4 separate regions of the Homo sapiens genome follow, and regions 1, 3 and 4 are each linked to region 2. Evidence: fine-mapped expression QTL. A gene starts in region 2. Each other region holds a variant in brackets. All regions are shown on one strand. Distances are from middle to middle.

Evidence for each region. PIP is the estimated chance that this variant, and not a neighbour inherited with it, causes the effect. A credible set is the group of variants that fine-mapping cannot tell apart.
Region 1: its variant is the best candidate, but not a certain one, in a credible set for the expression of KCTD20 in whole blood (TOPMed, PIP 0.81).
Region 3: its variant is the best candidate, but not a certain one, in a credible set for the expression of KCTD20 in subcutaneous fat (GTEx, PIP 0.80).
Region 4: its variant is the best candidate, but not a certain one, in a credible set for the expression of KCTD20 in blood mononuclear cells (TOPMed, PIP 0.55).

What each region holds. Positions count from the first base shown.
Region 1 is chr6:36,597,304-36,602,303 of GRCh38, forward strand. It overlaps SRSF3 (serine and arginine rich splicing factor 3), which reads left to right. Exons shown (of 6, transcript NM_003017.5): 3 at 1,546-1,680; 4 at 3,849-3,887; 5 at 4,405-4,491; 6 at 4,659-5,000. The coding sequence ends at 4,686. Among named protein-coding and RNA genes, the nearest start is that of SRSF3, 5.4 kb to the left of the region's middle. RefSeq lists enhancers at 1-363, 2,145-2,646, 2,647-3,146. The variant AACTT/A (reference allele first, on the strand shown) is at 2,122.
Region 2 is chr6:36,439,966-36,445,130 of GRCh38, forward strand. KCTD20 (potassium channel tetramerization domain containing 20) reads left to right here and starts at 3,035. Exons shown (of 8, transcript NM_173562.5): 1 at 3,035-3,146. PXT1 (peroxisomal testis enriched protein 1) reads right to left here and starts at 2,889. Exons shown (of 5, transcript NM_152990.4): 1 at 2,570-2,889. RefSeq lists enhancers at 1,356-1,903, 3,388-3,487, 4,093-4,152 and silencers at 1,710-1,779, 2,938-3,227.
Region 3 is chr6:36,385,650-36,390,847 of GRCh38, forward strand. ETV7 (ETS variant transcription factor 7) reads right to left here and starts at 2,020. Exons shown (of 8, transcript NM_016135.4): 1 at 1,887-2,020; 2 at 1-20. The coding sequence starts at 1,892. It overlaps PXT1 (peroxisomal testis enriched protein 1), which reads right to left. Exons shown (of 5, transcript NM_152990.4): 5 at 4,902-5,198. ETV7-AS1 (ETV7 and PTX1 antisense RNA 1) reads left to right here and starts at 971. Exons shown (of 2, transcript XR_926758.3): 1 at 971-1,281. RefSeq lists an enhancer at 1,091-1,914 and a silencer at 2,041-2,250. The variant G/T (reference allele first, on the strand shown) is at 3,140.
Region 4 is chr6:36,787,657-36,792,854 of GRCh38, forward strand. It overlaps CPNE5 (copine 5), which reads right to left. Exons shown (of 21, transcript NM_020939.2): 8 at 4,377-4,440. Among named protein-coding and RNA genes, the nearest start is that of CPNE5, 49 kb to the right of the region's middle. The variant A/G (reference allele first, on the strand shown) is at 2,157.

The DNA of each region.
Region 1 (5,000 bases), 160 kb after region 2:
CCATGTTGGCCAGGCTGGTCTCGAACTCCTGACCCCAGGTGATCTGACCGCCTTGACCTCCCAAAGTGCTGGAATTACAGGTGGGAGCCACTGTGCCCAGCCAGGATCAAATATTTTTAAGAGTAGTTGTGAACTGATCCTTGTTTAAAAAATTGTTTACAAAATGGTTACATGGGTTGGTTGTACCTTTACTTTTATGTGTTTGAAATACTCCAGAAAGTGAATCACTTACTATTTCCCTTTGTGTTAATAGTGTCCTGTTAGCTGGCTGAGTAAGGCCTGAGTATTGACCTCCATGCCCCCACCCCCCTTTCCTCATATTTGGAAGTATAATGGGAAAAAGGAGCTGAGTGTTCACTGTAAAGCTGCATGAAAGGTTGGTCAATTCAAGCAGGTTGTAGTAAAGTTTTCCAGGGCCCACCTCTTCCCAGTCACTCTTCAAATATGATAGCTTATCTAAATTTAATGACTGGTTGTATTAAGGGTGAGGAATAATGGTCTTTTTTTTTTTTTTTTACTACTGTGAGCTATAATTTCTTTTTTTAAAAAAATGTATATTTATTATTTAAAAAATAATACAGACGACAGTCTGTGTTGCCCAGGCTGGCCTCAAGCTCCTGGGCTCAAGCCATCCTCCTGCCTCAGCCTCTCTGAGTGCTGGGATTACAGGCATGAGCCACCTCACCTGGCCACAGCTATAATTTCTTCTGTGCTGACTGTTGAGGGGAGAGGGTGCTGTAAAATGGCCAAAATGGTTCTGTCTTGTCTTGAACTGATTTTTTACTTGGAGTGGGGCAGGGGGAGACCAATAAATACAGCCTGGTAAATAACTGAAATAAGTGCAGGGACTTCAAGGGAAGAAATCATAATGAAGATACAGGAGAACTTGTTTTTCAAGGATAAATGGATCTTCACACTTAAATTGCAACTGTTAACAAATTAACATTGAGCTCAGTAATCAGACTGGCTCTAACAATTAGGTGATAAAATAGAATTTGACTTCCTTGTGAATTGGTACTTTAGAAAATCCTATTTGTTTAATTTGAAATTAATTGAAATTTTAATTTGAAACTGGGAAACAAGCTTATTTTATTTTTCAAGACAGAGTCTTGCTCTGTCCCCCAGGCTGGAGTGCAATGGTGTGATCTTGGCTCGTTGTAACCTCTGCCTACTGGGTTCAAGTGATTCTCCTGCCTCAGCCGCCTGAGTAGCTGGGATTACAGGCATGTACCACCACACCTGGCTATTTTTTGTATTTTTAGTAGAGCGAGGGTTTCACCACGTTGGCCAAGATAGTGTCGAACTCTTGACCTTGTGATCCGCCTGCCTCGGCCTCATAAAGTGTTGGGATTACAGGCGTGTACCACCGTGCCTGGCCAAAGCTCATTTTATATTAGTAAAAATAAGGGAGCTAGAAATTTGATGTTAAATTGCACAGACACTTAGGTGTGTTCTTTGCAGAATAGCCAACTGAGAGTACTTTTGGCTTTAATACGCATGTCAGAAAGTCAGGCTGTTTTAAGTTTAATATCTTTGCCCCCTCAGAACACTATGTGGCTGCCGTGTAAGAGTGGAACTGTCGAATGGTGAAAAAAGAAGTAGAAATCGTGGCCCACCTCCCTCTTGGGGTCGTCGCCCTCGAGATGATTATCGTAGGAGGAGTCCTCCACCTCGTCGCAGGTACTTGAGAGAAAGCTTGTTAAGAGGTATTGGTGTAATGGAGTAGCTAGTAGGAGCAGGTATTTCTCTTAAGTTTGTTGGTGGGTTTTAAACTTTGGAAGAATCGGAGGTTTCTGTGAAACATTTGTTGGGTGTAATTTGGGGTATGTGAGTTGTGCTGAGTGTTGGCTTTTGTCTTTAGGTCACTGTTCATGTTGGTAGTCAGTAACTTCTATCTTGGATCTGTCTTCTAGTTCATCTTTCTAGTTGCATCTTTCCAAATCTTCCCTTATACTTCAGTTTAGGCCTTTTTCCATTTCTTGGCTCCATAATGACAAACATTACATTCAACTCTAGCTCTTCACAAATTTGTGTTTTCTACTATTAGCACAATTGTAATATTTATCAAACAGGCAGCTGTTTTAATGTTACAACTGGTAAAGTAGAAATCATTCTGAGACT[AACTT/A]AAGTCACTGACCAATAAAGGGGGCTAAAAAAGAAGTAATCCCAGTCATCTGTTCTTCAATCCCAAATAGGAGAAAATTCAGTTTTTTTATAATTGAAAATGGCATCATTCTTGGACCAGGCAGTATTGTCTGGGTGCTAACTCCACATCTCCTCAGACCTCCAAAATAGTTTCTATAGGACTAAATTTACCTCTTACAGGTGAGTGGAGTCCTTCTAGGAGACAGGAGTTCAAAATCTTGCCCCTTTTGCTATTTTGAAAAACAACAGCACACTGTTGCCCATCATAATAAAGAGTATTTGTTAGCTAATAGATGGTTGTACTGATGGCTTGTTTTTCATTTTTTTTGTGCTTTTTGGTCCATCTATTAATAAAAATGAACCCCGTTACAGAGTCACCATCATGTCTCTTCTCACCACCCTCTGAATCTGCATTAGCCAGTCAACTAGCCCTTTCAGCGTCATGTGACCAGCGCGCCCCATTCAGCTTGGCTGGTGTCGTTTCACATGACCCAGGCTGGCCAGTCGTCAGGTTGCACCGCCCTTTGGTTCCCGAGCATGCTGTTTTCTCTCAGCCTTCTCTCCAACCTTAACCAAATCGGCAGCAGCCACCTCGACCGCCCACACATTCCTGGCCAATCAGCTCAGCTGTTTATTTACCAAATGTCTTCACAACAACTACAGCAGCAGCCTTCGGCTAACAAAAAAGCAGGAAAAATCCACAACACCCCCTTCGCCAACCAACTAAATCCAACGCAACATCTGGCAAAACCTTTTCAGCAAATTCTTCCTGGCCGTCAGTCCGGCAGCCTCACCTCACCATTTCTAGCTTGTTGAAACCCAAAACTAGTAAGTTTTTCCTGCTTATACAGTTTACTGCTGGTTAAAATAAGGAGTAAGCGGCTTAAAGTAATTCTTTTTTCTGGATCAAAGGCTGGCTGTGCATAATTGAATGGTAACGTACATATATATTGCTTGAAAAACTTTTAAGGGTGATAGGGAACTCGTAATGTAACTAGGCCTTCAAGTGAAACTTATTTGCATGTGCAAGATGCCAAACTAAAAATTTTAATATCTCTAACAGATTAGCTTTTCTGGCAAAAATTTGTTGAATCCTATCACCTTTAAATGGTTTTACTAACAGTTTCAAAATTTAAAATTTTGGGGTTGAAGTGTGGGCCAAGCTAAGGTAATTTTGGTAAGCCTAAACACACTCTTAAATGTGACGATCACAAATGCAGTTCTAATGTAGCACTTAATGGCATCAATATTTACACCTACCGCGTTTTCACAAAATTACACTATCCACCTGGTACCTAAGTCTTGTCATGGACTTACAGGTTTGCATGGGTTCCAAATACTGGTTTATGGTACTGTTTTTGGAACTACTTGTGGGACTATATTTTGGTGTGGTGTTTGGGTAGTGAAGTTAGTTTGACATGAAGTTTTGCATTGGACAGATCTGCTGTGAAGCATTCTTTGTTAAAGTGAATCCATGGTTGGAATACCTGCTTTTCACTTGAGCTTTTTGTTTCTTAATCCTTCTGTGCCTTTTTTTTCTTTTCTTTTTTTTCTTTTTTTTTTTTTTTTTTTTTTTTTGGACGATGGGTGCCAGTTCTTCGGCACATTCACTGGGCCCAACAGTGAGATTGAAAAGTTGGGAAATGCCTCACGCCATAAATACTAATTGATGATGAGCCTAATTTTCCTGTTTCTGCTTTTAGATCTCCAAGAAGGAGAAGCTTCTCTCGCAGCCGGAGCAGGTAAATGACTACCTTTTTTGGCTACGTTCTTAGAAATGGCAGTGTTTCTGCTATTCCTAAACTTTTCCAGGTGGCTTAGTTAATGGGAATAAACCTTGGCTTTAATAGTGAATCAAGTTGTAAGGATGAGTCAGCTTTCTTTGAGTTTTCAAAGGCTTTTTAGAAAGTATTTAATTTTTTAAAAAAGGATCTGTCACCCAGGCTGGAGTGCAGTGGTGTGATTATAGCTCACTGTAGCCTTTAACTCCTGGCCTTGGAGTGATCCTCCCTCTTCAGCCTCCTGAGTAGCTTGGACTACAGGCAAGTACTGCCATACCTGGCTAATTTATTTTTTGTGGAGATGGGATCTCACTTTGTTGTCCAATCTGTTCTCAAACTCTTGGCTTCAAGTGAGCCTCCTGCCTCTGCCTCCCAAAATATTGGAATTATTGGCATGAGTCACCATGCCAGATCAAGAAAATATTTATGTATAATTTTATCATACCTCATTGGTCCTAATGTTTTTTTGCTTGTTTAGGTCCCTTTCTAGAGATAGGAGAAGAGAGAGATCGCTGTCTCGGGAGAGAAATCACAAGCCGTCCCGATCCTTCTCTAGGTCTCGTAGGTAAGATCTTTGATAACTTGTATTTAAGACTTTGCATACATAGTATGCTAAGGCCTGTCTTCTAAGCCATAAATTTTTTACCTTAAAGTTCTATTTCGATATGTCACTAAAGTGTCACCAAGTTACAGATGTAATGTTTTGTTTTCTTTTTTTTTTTTTTTTTTTAGTCGATCTAGGTCAAATGAAAGGAAATAGAAGACAGTTTGCAAGAGAAGTGGTGTACAGGAAATTACTTCATTTGACAGGAGTATGTACAGAAAATTCAAGTTTTGTTTGAGACTTCATAAGCTTGGTGCATTTTTAAGATGTTTTAGCTGTTCAAATCTGTTTGTCTCTTGAAACAGTGACACAAAGGTGTAATTCTCTATGGTTTGAAATGGATCATACGAGGCATGTAATACCAAGAATTGTTACTTTACAATGTTCCCTTAAGCAAAATTGAATTTGCTTTGAACTTTTAGTTATGCACAGACTGATAATAAACCTCTAAACCTGCCCAGCGGAAGTGT
Region 2 (5,165 bases):
CCTGCACCTGTAGTCCTAGCTACTCAGGAGGCTGAGGTGGGAGGATCACTTGAGCCCAGGAGGTTGAGGTTGCAGTGAGCCATGATCCCACCACTGCACTCCAGCCTGAGTGACAGGGCAAGACTCTGTCTCAGAAAACAAAAGAAAACGAACATTTAGCAAATTTAATTATTCGAGAGAGACAGTTCAAAATCTAGGGATTTTTGGTTTGTTTTTATATTTACTACATAAGCTTAGTCGGTAGAAATGAGGATTAGCTTTTTGTATGACAATTTACAATAGCTATTATTTAAAAAATATTTTTATTCTTAAGAGTCAACCTTGACCGGGCGTGGTGGCTTGCGCCTGTAATCCCAGCACTTTGGGATGCCGAGGCGGGTGGATCACGAGGTCAGGAGATCGAGACCATCTTGGCTAACATGGTGAAACCCCATCTCTACTAAAAATACAAAAAATTAGCCGGGCACAGTGGCGGGCGCCTGTAGTCCCAGCTACTCGAGAGGCTGAGGCAGGAGAATGGCGTGAACCTGGGAGGGGGATTAAGTCCAGAAGATCGAGGCTGCAGTGAGTGGTGATCACCCAGCCTGAGCAACAAAGGGAGACACTGTCTCAAAAAAAAAAAAAGAAGAAGGTTTTGGTTTCAGATACAAATAAATATCAGAGACTCGGGGTCTTGAGATACCTACATTAAATTAGAAATAAAATGATAAAAACCAGCAAACACCTATGCTTTCTGTGAATATACATTTCTCATATCCCGTCTCCTTGATGTCTGCCCAAAAAAGGTACCCAGTCTGATATGCTGTTCATTATATGAAATTTTAGCCAAAAGTTGAACCATTAACTATTAAAAGTCATGTTATCACTTATTTATTTTGGATGATGGATAACGGGTGTTTATTATATCTTTCTGTATGCTTTAATTTCCAAAATGAAAGTGTTTAAAAAATAATAATAAGACTCGGTAGTTAGCCTGATTCTCCAAACTTCAGGCCAGATTTTTGTATACCACAAATCTGCAGCCAGTGCAGTGGCTCATGCCTGTAATCCCCAAACTTAGGGAGGCAGAAGCAGGAGGATAGCTTGAGCCTAGGAGTTCAAGACCTGCCTGGGCAACAGAATAAGAACTCCATTCTCCACAAAAAGAAAAAAAAAAAAAAAAAGAAAGACAATATACAAATCTACGGGAAGGAATCTTTCCAGAAAGGAAGAATTTGTTTCAAGAACTGTTTTGCAGGAATATCAGAAGGTTTTTTATTTTTCTTTGACTCAAAGGCTGTAACACTGTACTTTATAAAAATGGAAATAAAGGCATTAGTTTGAACAATCCTCTATGCTGCTACTGTTGTAAAGTTTGGAGCCTATAACTCACTCAAATTGGTTTATAGCCATGTGTTTACTAAATCTTTTTTCATATTCCTTTTCTCCAGGCATACAGGAATTTATATCTCACAGCCTTCTTAGAGTCAGTCAGGTTGAGCCTGGTGACTAGTTCAGGACAGTGAAACGTCAGCAGAAGTGAAAAGGCCACTCACTTCTGGCAGAGGCAAAGGAGAGCCCTTACAGGATTCTCCAATCTAGCTCTTCTGCCAGCCCGGAAGTGCTGGGAGGGCAGAGCCACTGACGCAAGCAGCAGGGAAGCTGAGTCACCATGGGGACGTGAGACTGACTTACAGATGACGAGTGCAGCCTCACAGCCTAGTCCATGTTGAGATAAACACAATACAGTCCTGCATACTTTATAGTCATAAACGAGGGAGAATAGAAATGGAAAATGACCCTCTAGGCCTCTAAGACCAAATTATAATGAAAAAATTTATGTCTTCAGTTTTGAAAATTAAATTTTTTGACCCTGATAAAACAAATTTGCTATACAAGTATCCGTTAACCGTGTGAAACCTACTGAGTCAAACTATTTTCTTACATTCCTTCCACTTCAACACCAATTCTAATCCAATTCCAAATTAGTTTTCAGAGAGTCTCTTGTAAGGAAAAGGAGAATCGACTTCGAATTTTAAAATTTGTGCTATTATTAGTTTATAGAGCTTTCAACAATTTACAAATAGTTTGCATAATCAGTATATTTAATTAGTATATATAGACATATATATATATATTTGAGAGGGAACTTCACTGCAACCTCCCAGTTGCCTCCTGGGTTCAAGTGATTCTCCTGCCTCAGCCTCCCAAACAGCTAGGGTTATAGGCGCCCACCACCACGCCCGGCTAATTTTTGTATTTTTAGCAGAGACAGGGTTTCATCATGTTGGCCAGGCTGGTCTGGAATGCCCAACCTCAGGTGATCTGCCCGCCTCGGCCTCCCAAAGTGCAAGGATTACAGGCGTGAGCCACCAAGCCCGGCCTAGTGTAATTTTTAAAAGTACAAAAGCCACTAGAAACCGTGACAATAAGAACTTCCTTTTGGGTTTTCCAGCATTTGGTTCATAGGACATGGACCATATATAGATGTTTTTTGAATGCTGAAATCTTTTACTCATAACACAGTTTTCCCAGTAACTTGCTTCCGGTTGATTTAAAATTTGTAATACACCTTTGTAATAGCAGGTACCTTCATGAAACTCAGTATTTGAGAAAAATGTGGAGTTTTTCCCCCTTTCTTTTGGCCAGAATGTATATCCAGGGTAGTGACTTTCGAGCAAATGCGTTTAAGCAACTCCAGTATTCTTACTACGCTACCTCCAACCTCGCTCCACGCATGGGGAGATCAGGGTTCCACATTTTCGGGTAAGCATTAGCCGTCCTGGCGCTGCACGAGCGTATTCTACAATTCCGAAAACTACTAACTTTTCCGTCTGCAACCTTTAATAATTGAGAGGGTATGCGCAACTCAGAAAAGTGCGCCCGCTGAGGTTGGGTGCAGAGTGGACTGGAGGAAAGGCGACACCCATTTACGGTGCGGCCCCGGACGGGGTCCCCAGACACGGCCTTCCCGGCGTGCCACGCGCGGAGGGGACTCTTAACGTGAAGCGCTGGGTGACTCAGCCGCGTGGCCGCGCGGTCCGGGGCGGGGGGCGCGCGCCGCTGCGGCACAGCCGGTCCCGGCTGCGGCTTCTGGCTGCGCGGCCTGCGCGCGCCTCCCGGGCGGATTCCAGCCCCGAGCGGGACAGCGCGGCGGGGAGCGACGAGTAAGTGGCGGCGCGGTACGGTTTCGGGCGCGAAGACCGGGCAGGGAGAGTGTGGCGGCGGGCGTGGCCCGAGTCTTCCCTTTGTGGCCGAGGGGGCGTCTCCTCCGGACGCGGCGGCGGTTCGGACCCCCGAGTCGAAAGGCCGCGGGGCTGAGCTGGGCGCGAGGAACCTGTGGGCAGCGGCTTGATGGGCTCCTGTTTCCGCGCGGAGGGCAGAGTCTGGTGATCCTGGGGAGGGAGGCGACGCTGCGCCCAGGTGGTGGGCACAGCTGAAGTGTAACTTGACTGCTTGACTGCTTTTTGCAGGCCTCGGGTGGTTCATCCCGCCGGAGAGGAATGGCGAGAACCTGGAGTGTTGACTGGCAAAACATTTGCAGACGCGGTTTTTCTGGCAATTAATTGGCTCCATTAAAAATTAGGTAGTTGGTGGGGACTTCCTCCTGAACTCTGGAGCCGAGCGCATTTTGCTCGGTCTTTTCAGCCCTGTTTCCGCGTCTTCCTTCCCTGCCACCCGCAAATTGCCAGCTTTCATCCGTGGCTCTGAGTGCAAAAGAGCTGGGGAAAGCCTTAACCAGCAATTTTCTTTTAAATAAAACTTTGCTTTTTATAGCAGTGTCTTCAGGTTTAGAAGCCCAGTTCTGCACTATGAGAAAACTCTTCTATTTTGGAGTTTGTGATTCTTTCTGAAAATTCCTCAGTTGAAGAGATTTATTTTTAAATAAGAATCTAGTGAACAAACTAACATGATAAACAAGGCTGTGAAGGAACTGTTTAACCAGCTTATGAAAATATGTCCCAGAGTCCTTAGTTTTGTTCCTGTTCGCTGTGCGAGAAGTTGAGGTAGTTTTTTAATGGTCTTCAAAACAAAGTGTTGTAGTAGTGTCTGTCGGATGTGATGAATCCAGAGTCAGAGGACTTCCGCTCAAGGCCCCCACCTGAAACCCCAATTCCTAGGCCATAGTTCTGAAACAGAAGATTGTTCCTTAGTAATAAGGTTGCAGTACCCTAGCACCTCTTCCATAAATTTGATTCTAGAGATTTGTGATGGGTCCCTGAGTCTGGGATTTAAGCAAGCACCTGCACTCTTGGTCTGTTACTGATGATCCAGGGACCGACCACACGTTGACAGACACCACCTTTAGGCTGGGCTGGGAATTTTAAAAACTGCCCAACAGCCTTAACCCTTTGTCGATGTTTTCCTCCCCTGCCCTAAACCAGTCGTAGGACAAGAAGCCCTGACTCTCCAGAAGCCAATATGAGAAAAGATAGTGCTTTTTTTGACCCTGACACGGGGTAGGAAATGATTTTCATGCATATTCCGATATTGCTCTGATGGTTTAGAGATAGCCCATTAATCTTTTCCTTCTGAGGGCTGCTTCTAGTATCATCAGAGCTTAATGCCATTAGGCCAAATCTCCTCCGCCCAGCTCACTCAAGTCTCCCCATGGAACCAGGGCAGCCAATGCCATATAATTCCCATGGCCTTGACTGTCATATTATCTGGTATGTAGCAGTACTAGTAGCATTATGAGGGCTTTCAGTTCAGCTGGACGTTAATTTAGTCATCAAATACCTGCGTAATGCCTATTTTCCTCAAAGCACTGTAGTAGGCTGTTTTATCAACAGCATTGCAATATAGACACATATTTCTGGCACAGAGTTGCATTCCTCCTTTGAGGCAGAAATGAGGGCTGGATAAACTCCACTGCTGCCAAAAGGTTCTCTTTATTCATCCACAATTTGTTCCTTCCTGTTATGCCAGAAATACACGTACTATTCCAATAATCTCGTTTTCCTTAAGAAGTTAAGAAATACATTGTATTAGGCCTAACTGTAGTAGTTAGGTCAGTCTTAAATTCTGTAACAGAAGCCGGGCGTGGTGGCTCATGCCTGTAATCCCAGCAATTTGGGAAGCCGAGGCAGATGGATCACCTGAGGTCAGGAGTTTCAGACCAGCCTGGCCAACCTGGTGAAACCCTGTCTCTACTAAAAATACAAAAATAAGCCAGGCATGGTGGT
Region 3 (5,198 bases), 54 kb before region 2:
GAAATAGCCAATTCTCCCTCCTAGAGAGAGAAAAACCAGGACAGTCAAAGAAGAGCATCTTGGTGAAGGCTCAGCCATCTTTAAATGTCTTAAGAATTTTTTTGGAAGGGAAAGAGTGTTTATCTCCACCAGAAGACTGCATCAACCTTAAAGGTAGGAACCATGTATATCTTCAACTCAGTACCATCAACATTTTGTACCCAGTGGACACAATAAATGACATCCTTCCAATTCAAGCTTTCCATGCATGTGCCTAACTCCAAGAGGGATCCCCTGCCAAGACTTGTATGATTGAAATCTGAAAGCCTAGGAATCCTCACTGGATCCCTGGTGAGGACAACACAGGAAACCTGAGGGGCCAGGATCAAAAGACCTTAAATCAGAAATAAACAAATAGACCAGGTGCGGTGGCTCACACCTATAATCTCAACACTTTGGGAGTCTGGGGCGGGTGGATTACTTGAGGTCAGGAGTTTGAGACCAGCCTGACCAACATAGTGAAACATTATCTCTACGAAAAATACAAAAATTAGCCGTGCGTGGTGACCGGCGCCTGTAATCCCAGCTACTCAGGAGGCTGAGGCAGGAGAATCACTTGAACCCGGGAAGCGGAAGTTGGAGTGAGCCAAGATCACGCCACTGCACTCCAGCCTGGGCAAGAGAGCAAGACTCCGTCTCAGAACAAACAAACACTATTTTCAAAAGAGAAAAAGAAAGGATAAGGATACATTTCTGAATCCTAAGGTCTCACCACGGGAAGCCTGTATCTTTACAATTCAACAATCAGCATGGCCCCCAGAGATGACGGGGTTCATCCATTCAGATGAGAAAATGAAGAAAGTGGCAGGATTTTGTAGGAATAGGAAGCTCCTTCGGGCTCATGCCCAGCCACAGGCTGCCACAGCACGGAAAGGAAAAGTGAAACCAGCTCCATCAAGTCATTTTTCACTCTAGGATTGTCAAAAGCTTTACATTCATCTCTTGGGATCCGAGGAGAGATATCTGCCGAGAGAGAATTTGGATCGGAGCCAGCAAAGCAAACTCCAGAAGCCTTGGCTGCTGCGAAAGGGGATTCAACACCTTTCCGGGTCGTTCTCACTTCATTTCCAGCCGGTCCCCCTTTGGTGCTGTTTCCCAAGTAATCAGACCTCAGGGGTTGCCTCCTGGTGGGGAAAGGGAAGCTTGCCTTGCTGGAGAAGGGGCTCAAGGCACAGGACTTGCCTCGGACTTGCCAAGGAGGCTTGCAGGAGGCTCTTTGTCTACTCCTCTGTCCTCATCCAAGTAAGAGGAGCGGGGAATTCCGAGGCTGTAACTGCCTGGGAAACGCCAGCCACGGAGCTGCTGAGGATCAGACTCCTGGGTTTCAGCATGGAGGCCAGGGAAGGGTCTGATAATGGGTATGGGTCCTGGCGAGAGGGGAGTGGAGAAAGGCCTTGGAGTGGGACGGGGCGCCAGCTCTGGGGGCAGTCTCGAGGCACCTAGAAAACCGGCGAGTGGGGAGAGGCTGCTAAAGAGGGGCTCCCTGCGAGAATGCGTTCACCAGCTGTGAGGACCTGGCTGGCGCACGAACTTCCAAAGACCTCACATCTGGTTGGTGTAGGGGCGACCAGTGGTAAGGGGGCTGCGGAAAGGGCCCGCAGGGGCTGTGCGTGATGCCTTCAGAGCTGTGTATGACACCGAGAGAGTCAGGGGCGGTGACCCGCGTCTGGAGGTGGAAGGGGAAGTGAGTGAGGGATGGATGTGAGGTTTAGGAATGTGTTGGAAAGAGAGATTCCCGCCAGGTAAAAGGTCTGATAAAATAGGTTTGGAAATCTAGGTGGTGAGGAAAGGATGCGGGAGCAGGTGGCTCTGCGTGCGCGCTGCGTGTTCAGCCGCCAGGCTCTTACCTGCATTACAGGTGGAGGTGAGGAAGCCACCGGCTTTCTGTCTTGAGCGCTCCCCTGGCTGTGGCTGCTGGGGCCCTAGGCCCGCGCCCCGCAGTCCTCCTCCGCCAAACCCCTAACCTGGCTCCGAGAACTGGAAGGTCGCGTGGGAGGAAATCTCTTTCGAGAAGCGCCAAGGCGTGTGCGCCCGGGTCCTCCGCAGGCGGGCAGGCGCGCGAGGCGCTCCGGTAATCGCTATCCTTCCGGGAAACGAAAACGAAAGAGCGGGATGCGGTTCCACTTGCGCCGCTGCGGGCTAGGAGCAGGGCAGGGCAGGGCAGGGGCCGGCCCCGTGGGAGCGCAGCACCGGGGCGCTGCCCGCTCGCTAGCCTGGGAGGCGTGGGTCCTGCACACAGCCTCCAGCCGGCGGACAGTCCCTCTGGCGACCTGGCCTTGGCTCCCACTGGGGCAGAGCCGGGATTCTGCAGGATCTGAGGATCTAAGGGGACCCCTAGTCCTGAACTCGGAACCAACTGCGTCTCTCACGGTCCCGAGCCCAGGACCAGGAAGGACCCTGTGAGTCTCCGCACATAGGATAGGAAGGGGCCTCGCATGGTGCCTCTCCCTTTAGGGGTGAGTGACCTTCCCGGCCCCGATACTGTCTCGGCCTGCCGTTTGGCCCCGCTGAGGCCCCACAGGTCCGGAACCGTCGCACCACCATCAGAGCGGCTGTGCTCTCCTGAGCAGGGCCAGACTACTCGGAGATCCCGACTGACACCTTTTCCTGGGCCTCTGGGTGCTCCGGGGTTGGTGCCTGCCCACCCATCACCCTTTCCATCTGTCTCAGCTCCCCCTGTCTCAAGAGAGGTTGTGCGCATAAAAACAAACCAGAAGACACCGAAGAAAAGGAAAGAAAAGCATTAACAACCTTCTGCTGAAAATCTGAGGGTGTAGACGCTGTTACAAAGTAGGCTTAGCACTGGTATATCATCACAAGCTCTAGGCCAGCAATAAGAAACCAGTAAGAACAAGGCCAGAAACCCAGTAGGAAAAAAAAATGAGCAAAGGATATGAATAAACAGTCCACATAAAAGGAAATGCCAAATGGCTCCTGAATATACAAAAAGATGCCCAGGGTGCAGTGGCTCATGCCTGTAATCCCAGCACTTTGGGATGCCAAGGTGGGAGGATCGCTTGAGCCCAGGAGTTGGACACCAGTCTGAACAACATGGTGAGATCCTGTCTTTACTGAAAATTTAAAAAATTAGCCGGGCATG[G/T]TGGGGCTACACCTGTAGCCCCAGCTATTCAGGAGGCTGAGGATGGAAGATCGCTTGAGCCTGAGAGTTGGAGGCTGCAGTGAGCCGTGACTGTGCCACTGCACTCCAGCCTGGGCAGCAGAGAAAGAAAAAGATGCTCAGACAAACTCACTATTTTAAATGTGCAAATTAAAGTTATTCTGAGATAGAAATTTTTACCCATAAATTTGGCAAAAATTTAAAAGTTTACTAACATAATCTGCTGGAAAAGCTGAGGTAAAGTGGTGCAACCCCACAGCGGGGTCTGGCAAATTTACAAATGCATTTTCCTTTCACCCAGCAATCTGCCTACCAGAAATTTATTCAACAAATATCCAAAGTATACATAGTTACTTATTTAATCATGGTTTATAATAGCAAAGTATGAGAAATAACTCAGGTGTCCACAAAAGGAGGCTTGATAAACTAATGCACATTCATTTCTTTTAATTTTAATTTTCTATTTTTTTTTTTTTTTTAGAGACAGGGTCTCACTCTGTCGCCCAGGCTGGAGTGCAGTGGTGCCATCAAAGCCCACCTTAACCTCCAACTCCTGGGCTCCAGTGATCTCCCACCTCAGCTCCCAAATCACTGGGATTACAGATGTGAGCCACCACACCCAGCCAAATTATGTACATTCATTTAACTGAATACAATACAACACTTTATGGAGTTCTCTGTGGATCATGGCAAGCTCTCCAAGAGGCAGTATGGCATAGTGGATAATAATCTAGACTTAGGAACACCTGCCTGGTTTGGAATCCCAGCCATGTCATTTACTGGCTGTGTGCCCTTGAGCAAGTTTGTGTTAACCACTCTACTGCCTCCCTCTACTAACTACTGCCTCAATTTTTTAACAGTAAAAAAGAGCAAATAATAATACCTATCCCATAAGGTTGTTATGAATAAGTAAGTTAACTTTTATAAAACACCCAGAACAGTGCCTGAACACCCACGCTAAGTAAAAAAATCAAGGTACAAAACAGTGTGTATTACATGCTACCTCTTGTATGTAAATATACGTGTGTGTGTGTGTGTGTGTGTATGTATGTATGTATGTATTAATTAGTATTTATACAAAGAACCTCTGGAAGGATACATAAAAACTAATAAGCATAACTGGAATTTAGAGTAGAAAATAATAGAAAGGGTTTTTGTTGTAAACCTTTTCACATGGTTGTGATTTTTTTTTTTTTTTCTGAGATGGGGTCTTGCTCTGTCGCCAGGCTGGAGTGCAGTGGCATGATCTCGGCTCACTGCAACCTCCGCCTCCTGGGTTCAAGCGATTCTCCTGCCTCAGCCTCCCGAGTAGCTGGGACTACAGGTGCGTGCTACCACACCCACCTAATTTTTGTATTTTTAGTAGAGACAGGGTTTCACCATGCTGGCCACAATGGTCTCAATCTCTTGACCTCGTGATCTGCCCACCTCGGCCTCCCAAAGTGCTGGGATTACAGGCGTGAGCCACTGTGCCTGGCCTTGTTTTGATTTTTGAATCATATAAATAAAAACCTATTCAAAATAAATTTTAAAAAGACAGTTTTAGGGCTAGTCAGCCAGAACCTAAGTAATAATAGAAATAAATATGCACTGCCTGCGACAGACTAAAAAATGGAGACATTTCCCTTTGGAAGGACAAAGTCAATGCTATGTATAATCAAAGTCTACAAACCAATATGAGCAGGAATAAGTGGCTAGACCCTGCTGTGGGGTTCCTCCTTCAAAAAAGAAATATGCACAGGGGTTTCATGCTCAATAAAATAACAATATTTATTTCATTTTTAGAATTTTTTAAAATAACACTTCCCCTATGAAGAACTCAAGATACATATGTAAACTTTTAATTTATAACAACAAGCTTTCCTAATATTTATAATTCTTTTAAAGGAGGGGAGAGAGGGACTATGAGGTAGACAAAAAGGTAAAAGAAGAAGCATGCAGGTGAAAGAACTGCCTAACAGCGTGCAGGAGAGAATGAGTGAAATACATTCCACAGGCAAAGGGCCCACCAACCAATAATAGCAAAACCATCCAGCAATAG
Region 4 (5,198 bases), 350 kb after region 2:
TCAGTCAAAGCATATTTCCTGAACTGAAATGAAAGAATACATGAGCACGCTGGTGACACCTAAGGGGTGGGGAGGCCCCCGGGGCAGTTATGGTGTGAAGTTATAACTCCCTTTGCAGGAGAGAGATGAGGCACACCCTTCTTCCTCCATCACTGCCTCCTCCATGACCACCGCCACCATCCTGGCTGGGACGGCCAGTCAGGTGGAAGGACCTGACTAGGAGGTGGTAAAGACGTACTATCCTGAGCCGGGAAGTCCTGACTCCAGAGCAAGGCAGGTCTGGGTGGCTGACAGGTCTCTAGGGGGAACCAAGGGGCTGGGAAGTGGAGGGCAAAGAGCTATCCAACCCTCTGTATTGACAACAACCCCTACCTTTTCTTTTTTTTTTTTTTTTGACAGGGTCTCACTCTGTTCCCCAGGCTTCAGTGCACTGGTGCAATCATGGTTCACTGCAGCTTTGACCTCCCAAGCTCAAGTGACCCTCCTACCCCAGCCTCCTGATTAGCTGGGACCACAGGCGTGCACCACCACACCCTGCTAATTTAAAAAAATTTTTTTGTAGAGATGGTCGGGGGGGGGTCTCACTATGATGTCCAGGCTGGTCTCGAACTCCTGAGCTCAAGCTATTCTCCTGCCTTGCTCAGCCTCGCAAAGTGCTGGGATTATAGGCGTGAACCCCAACCTCCACTGCTCAAAGCCACCCTGCCTGCTGAGGGCAGTAGCCCCACAAGGGACAGAAGGTCGGTGACTGTTCCCTGTACCGTGAGGGCTCGAGGCTCCAGGGGTGAGGGAAAGACTGAGGATTAGGAGTTCCAAGGCCTGAGCTAGAATCCCAGCAATCTTAGGCAGACCACTAACTTCTCTGCATCCGTAAAACAGGGTTACTCACACCCACCCAGCCCCCCAGCCTTGCAGTCAGAATCAAATAAGACTAAATAAGAGGGTCTCGGTAAACCAATGTTGGCCAGTATTACAGGCAGTAACAATCGTTTTACTGCTGTATTACAGGCAGTAACAATCGTTTTACTGCTGAGCAGAATTGAACCTTGGGTGATTCAGAAGGCCCTTCGGGAGACCAACCTCATGACTGTCAACATCAAGTACCATTCGATAGTATTTGGATCAAATTCTGATTGTGGGAACTTCTTTGACATTTAAATTCCAGATGAACAAGGCTTTTCTATAACCTGTCAAACTATGCTGGTGACACACTGGAGTCCACTGTCATCCTTTGCTGGTTCCCACCCGCCCACGTCATCCCCATGGATGAAGAGAGGGTTTGTCTACTTCGGCAAAATGTATTCATTTGAGCAGGAAGCCCTGCTCTGGTGAAAAATCATCTCTCAGACCCCACCCTCTTCCTTTGATCCTCCCACTGAATGCTGAGCTGGAAAGACGAAGCAAAGCTGTTCAGATGTAATTATTTTAATTCAGCCAGATGCTGGGAATTAGTCTCTTTTCCTTGCAAGGATTCTAGGGAGAGACAGAACTCAGCTAAAGATGCCCCAGAAGAAAAGGAGCTGACAATCTCAGGAGGAAGGGAGGGCGCTCCCTGCCCCCGACATAGACCCCTGGTGCTGGAACAGCTTAAATCAAGAAAACTGCTGCTATCCCTGGGTGAAGGAGTAGGGAGGACTGGGGAAGAAGGAGGAAGAGGAAGGGTTTAACACCTGATAGGTATTCAACCTAAGACTGCTTACCAACCCCTGGAATGCTAGACCAGTAACGGCCACCAGCATTGTCTAGAGCGTTAGAATTTCCAAAGCGCTTTCATGTATGTGACTTTATTTGGTTATAAACTAGGAAGAAAGTCACCAGCTGGGCTAGAAGCTTGGGGAAACACTGAATTTAGGTTCAAGGAATTCAGATGCACCCTTTCCTAGGCATCTGTTAGACACACTCACATTCATGAACTCCTTTAATCCTCACAGCAACCCTATCAGCGCCAAGCTGCAGGTGGAAAACGGAGGCTCTGGGAGCTGCAACAGCTCTGTTCCACAGGGCAACCGAATTCTCTCCCTTGTCTGAACTCCAGTGGCATCCAGATCCTCAGCAGACACGTGTGTTTTGTCCATGACCTGGTGCTGAACACTCGGTCTGTGCTTCCTAATCATTCAGTCACATATTCGTGATGGGTCCTCGGGAATGCCTACTGC[A/G]CCCCGAGTCCTGCCCTGGGGGTGCACACTGGGTGGGGTTCATTCCCGCTGTCAAGTGCCTTCAGATCCACTGAGATTAACAGATAAGCAACCCGGGTGAGCAGTCACATATGAATTTTTTTGGTCATCTCTAGACTGCCCTGTACTATCGATTCTGTGTTCGTGTGTCTTATTCTTCCACTGGAAGTCCTTGGAAACAGAGTTTGTAACACCACAGTCCAGTGGTTAAAGACCTTGGCTCTAGAACCAAACTGCCAAGTTTCAAATCTCTTCTACTCAGTGGCTGTGTGACCTTGGACCGATCAATTAACCTCTCTGTGCTTCAGTTTCCTTATCTATAAAAGTGAGGAAAATTAATGAGGACCATAATTCATCAGATGTTATAACACATCATACTACATACTACATTATATATTATAATATGTTAGGTAAGCAAGTCAATACATGTAAACCACTTACCACAGTGTATGGCCCAAAATAATGACTCAATTAATGTTCTCTAACACTGTTATACCTCTATACCAGCAGCTCTCAAAGTATGGACCAGGAACCCCGAGGGATCCGTGGGGTCAAAACTATTTACATAATAATGCTAAGATGAAGAGTTTTCCAGAGGTTATCTGACAGGGATTTCACAACAGATTGACTACAGAAGCAGCTATGAGAATCCAGATGTCTTCCATTAAGTCAGACGTTAAAGAGATTTGCAAAAATGTAAAACAAGGCCACTCTTCTCATTAAATGATTATTGGGAGTTATTGTTGTTTTTCAAAATATGTCTTATTTTATTTATTTATTTTTTGAGATGGAGTCTCGCTCTGTCGCCCAGGCTGGAGTGCAGAGGAGCCGAGATTCCAATCTCAGCTCACTGCAGCCTCTGCCTGCCGGGCCCAACTAATTTTTTGTGTTTTTAGTAGAGACGGGGTTTCACCATGCTGGCCAGGCTGGTCTCAAACTCCTGACCTCGTGATCCGCCCGCCTCGGCCTCCCAAAGTGCTGGGATTACAGGCGTGAGCCACCGTGCCCGGCCCCAAAAAAAATGCGTTATTTATGTTGACCCATAATGGGTTCAACTATTGTTATTTTTAAAGGAATTAAATTATTTTTAAAGGAATTAATACATACATTAAAATTCTGTTTAAATTTCTAGTAGGGTAAATATTGATTGATAGCTGATCCGTAGCACTGACCTCCCAGGAAGGTAGGAAAATCTTGTTTCTCCTGGTCATCCCTCCCAGCTCCATGGGAAGCTGTGTTCCCAGGGTAGCCCAGGCTTTGTTTACACTTGCACCCTGCCTCTCCCTGCATCTGTCCCAGCCTCCTCTTCTCTCCAAGCCCCACCACTTTCCCACTTTTATAGCCACTCTTAGGTTAGATGGTGGTGCTTTTGGGGCTGAGCCCGGATCTTAGAATCAAGCTGACCTGGAGTAGAGTCATGGCTCTGCTGTTTGTCATCCTTGAGCAGGTGACTTTGCCTCTCTGAGCCTCAATTTCCTCATCCATAGAATGGGAGTAACATTTTAGTACCTGCCTCTTAGGATGATTGTCAAGAGCAGCGATAACTTATGTAAAGTGCCTATTACTTGACAAATACTGACCATCACCATTATGATACTTTATCATTATTATTAATTATGAGGTCCCCTGAGCCCCTTCTTTGTGTGCTCAGCTGTCCCCATCTCCTGCTCCCCCACAGTCCTACAGTAAAAGCAAGACCAAGGGCTGCCTGGGACTGCAGACTTCTTCCCAACACATGCGTACGCACAGACACACTCCATCCGCCCCATGCAGGGTGTCACCCTACTCCAGAGCTGAAAGTGAAAAATGACAGCTAAATGTCAAGCACCCAGGCTTCCTTCAAGACTGAAAAGGTCTTTGCTGCCACAGTGTTGGTGCCAAGGCAGTCTCGGCTCAAGGACACGTGAGTGGTGGCTGTGATGGGGAGGGGAGGGAGCCCTGGCATGGGAGCTAGGGGACGGGGCTCAGCTGGGCTCTGCTGCTGACTGTGGGTGAGCTCCTTCTCCTCTCCGGGCCTCAGTCTGCTCAGCTATAAAAAGGGAAAACACCCACTAGCTCTGATGTTGCAAAATTCTATGACAGCCAGGTCAGCATCAGGAGCCCTGTCTACCCTCGGTTCCCTCCAGGGGCTCAGGGAGGCCAGCCTGCACTCCATCACCCCCACCCCAACCACGTCCTGTGCTGGAGTCCTCTGCCACTCACCCTACAGTTGCTGAGCTCCTCAGCGGACAGGATGATGGTGCCACATTTCTTTCCTGGGACACCACTGGGAGAGGAGAAGATGAAAGAATGGAAAGCCAGACAAAGACAGAGCCATAAACCTGACACTCCCTCAATCAGCCCCCTGCCCATCCTCCCCCGCCCCCTACCATCCAGCAGATCACCCCAAAGCCCCTGAGAAGACAGAGTCTCCTGAGATCCTTGTGGCAGTGTGGCCTAGTGCACTGCTTCCTGGGACCGGGTCCCCGAGCCTGGAGCTGCCCCACCCCCTGCTCCCCGAGAGCCCACCAGGAAGGGTAGTGCCTGCAGTGAAAGTCCTAGAATTGGAAAAGCATCCAGACTCACCCGGAGGCTTCCAGACCAGTGGTTCTCAAACTTTCCATCCAAAGACCACTTCTGTGGGCAAAAGACCTCATGGGCTAGCCACCCCACCTCACACCCAGCTGACCCCCAGCGTCCCGGGACAGTCCAGCTCTGAGCCACTCTGATGTGTCACGGGAGGGAGGAAGGCAGGAGGGCTGGTGGGCCCTCGCTGGCAGCTTGCCCAGGCTCCTTCCCATGGCTACCTCCCCTTAAATGCCTTGGCTGGGGTCTCCCTGGGAGTGAGAGATCCCAGCCGACTGTGCAGCTCCCCAGTGAAGTGGGCAACCAGATCAAGGTCCGTGAAGTCGGTCCACCCCAGCACATCCCTCCAGGAGGGCAAGTTCTTCGGCTGGGGCTCCACTCAGGGGAACTGAACCACCTCTTCCCCTGGTTAGATAGGACCCCCTCCTTCAGGCACCATCCCAGCCCACTCTAATGTTT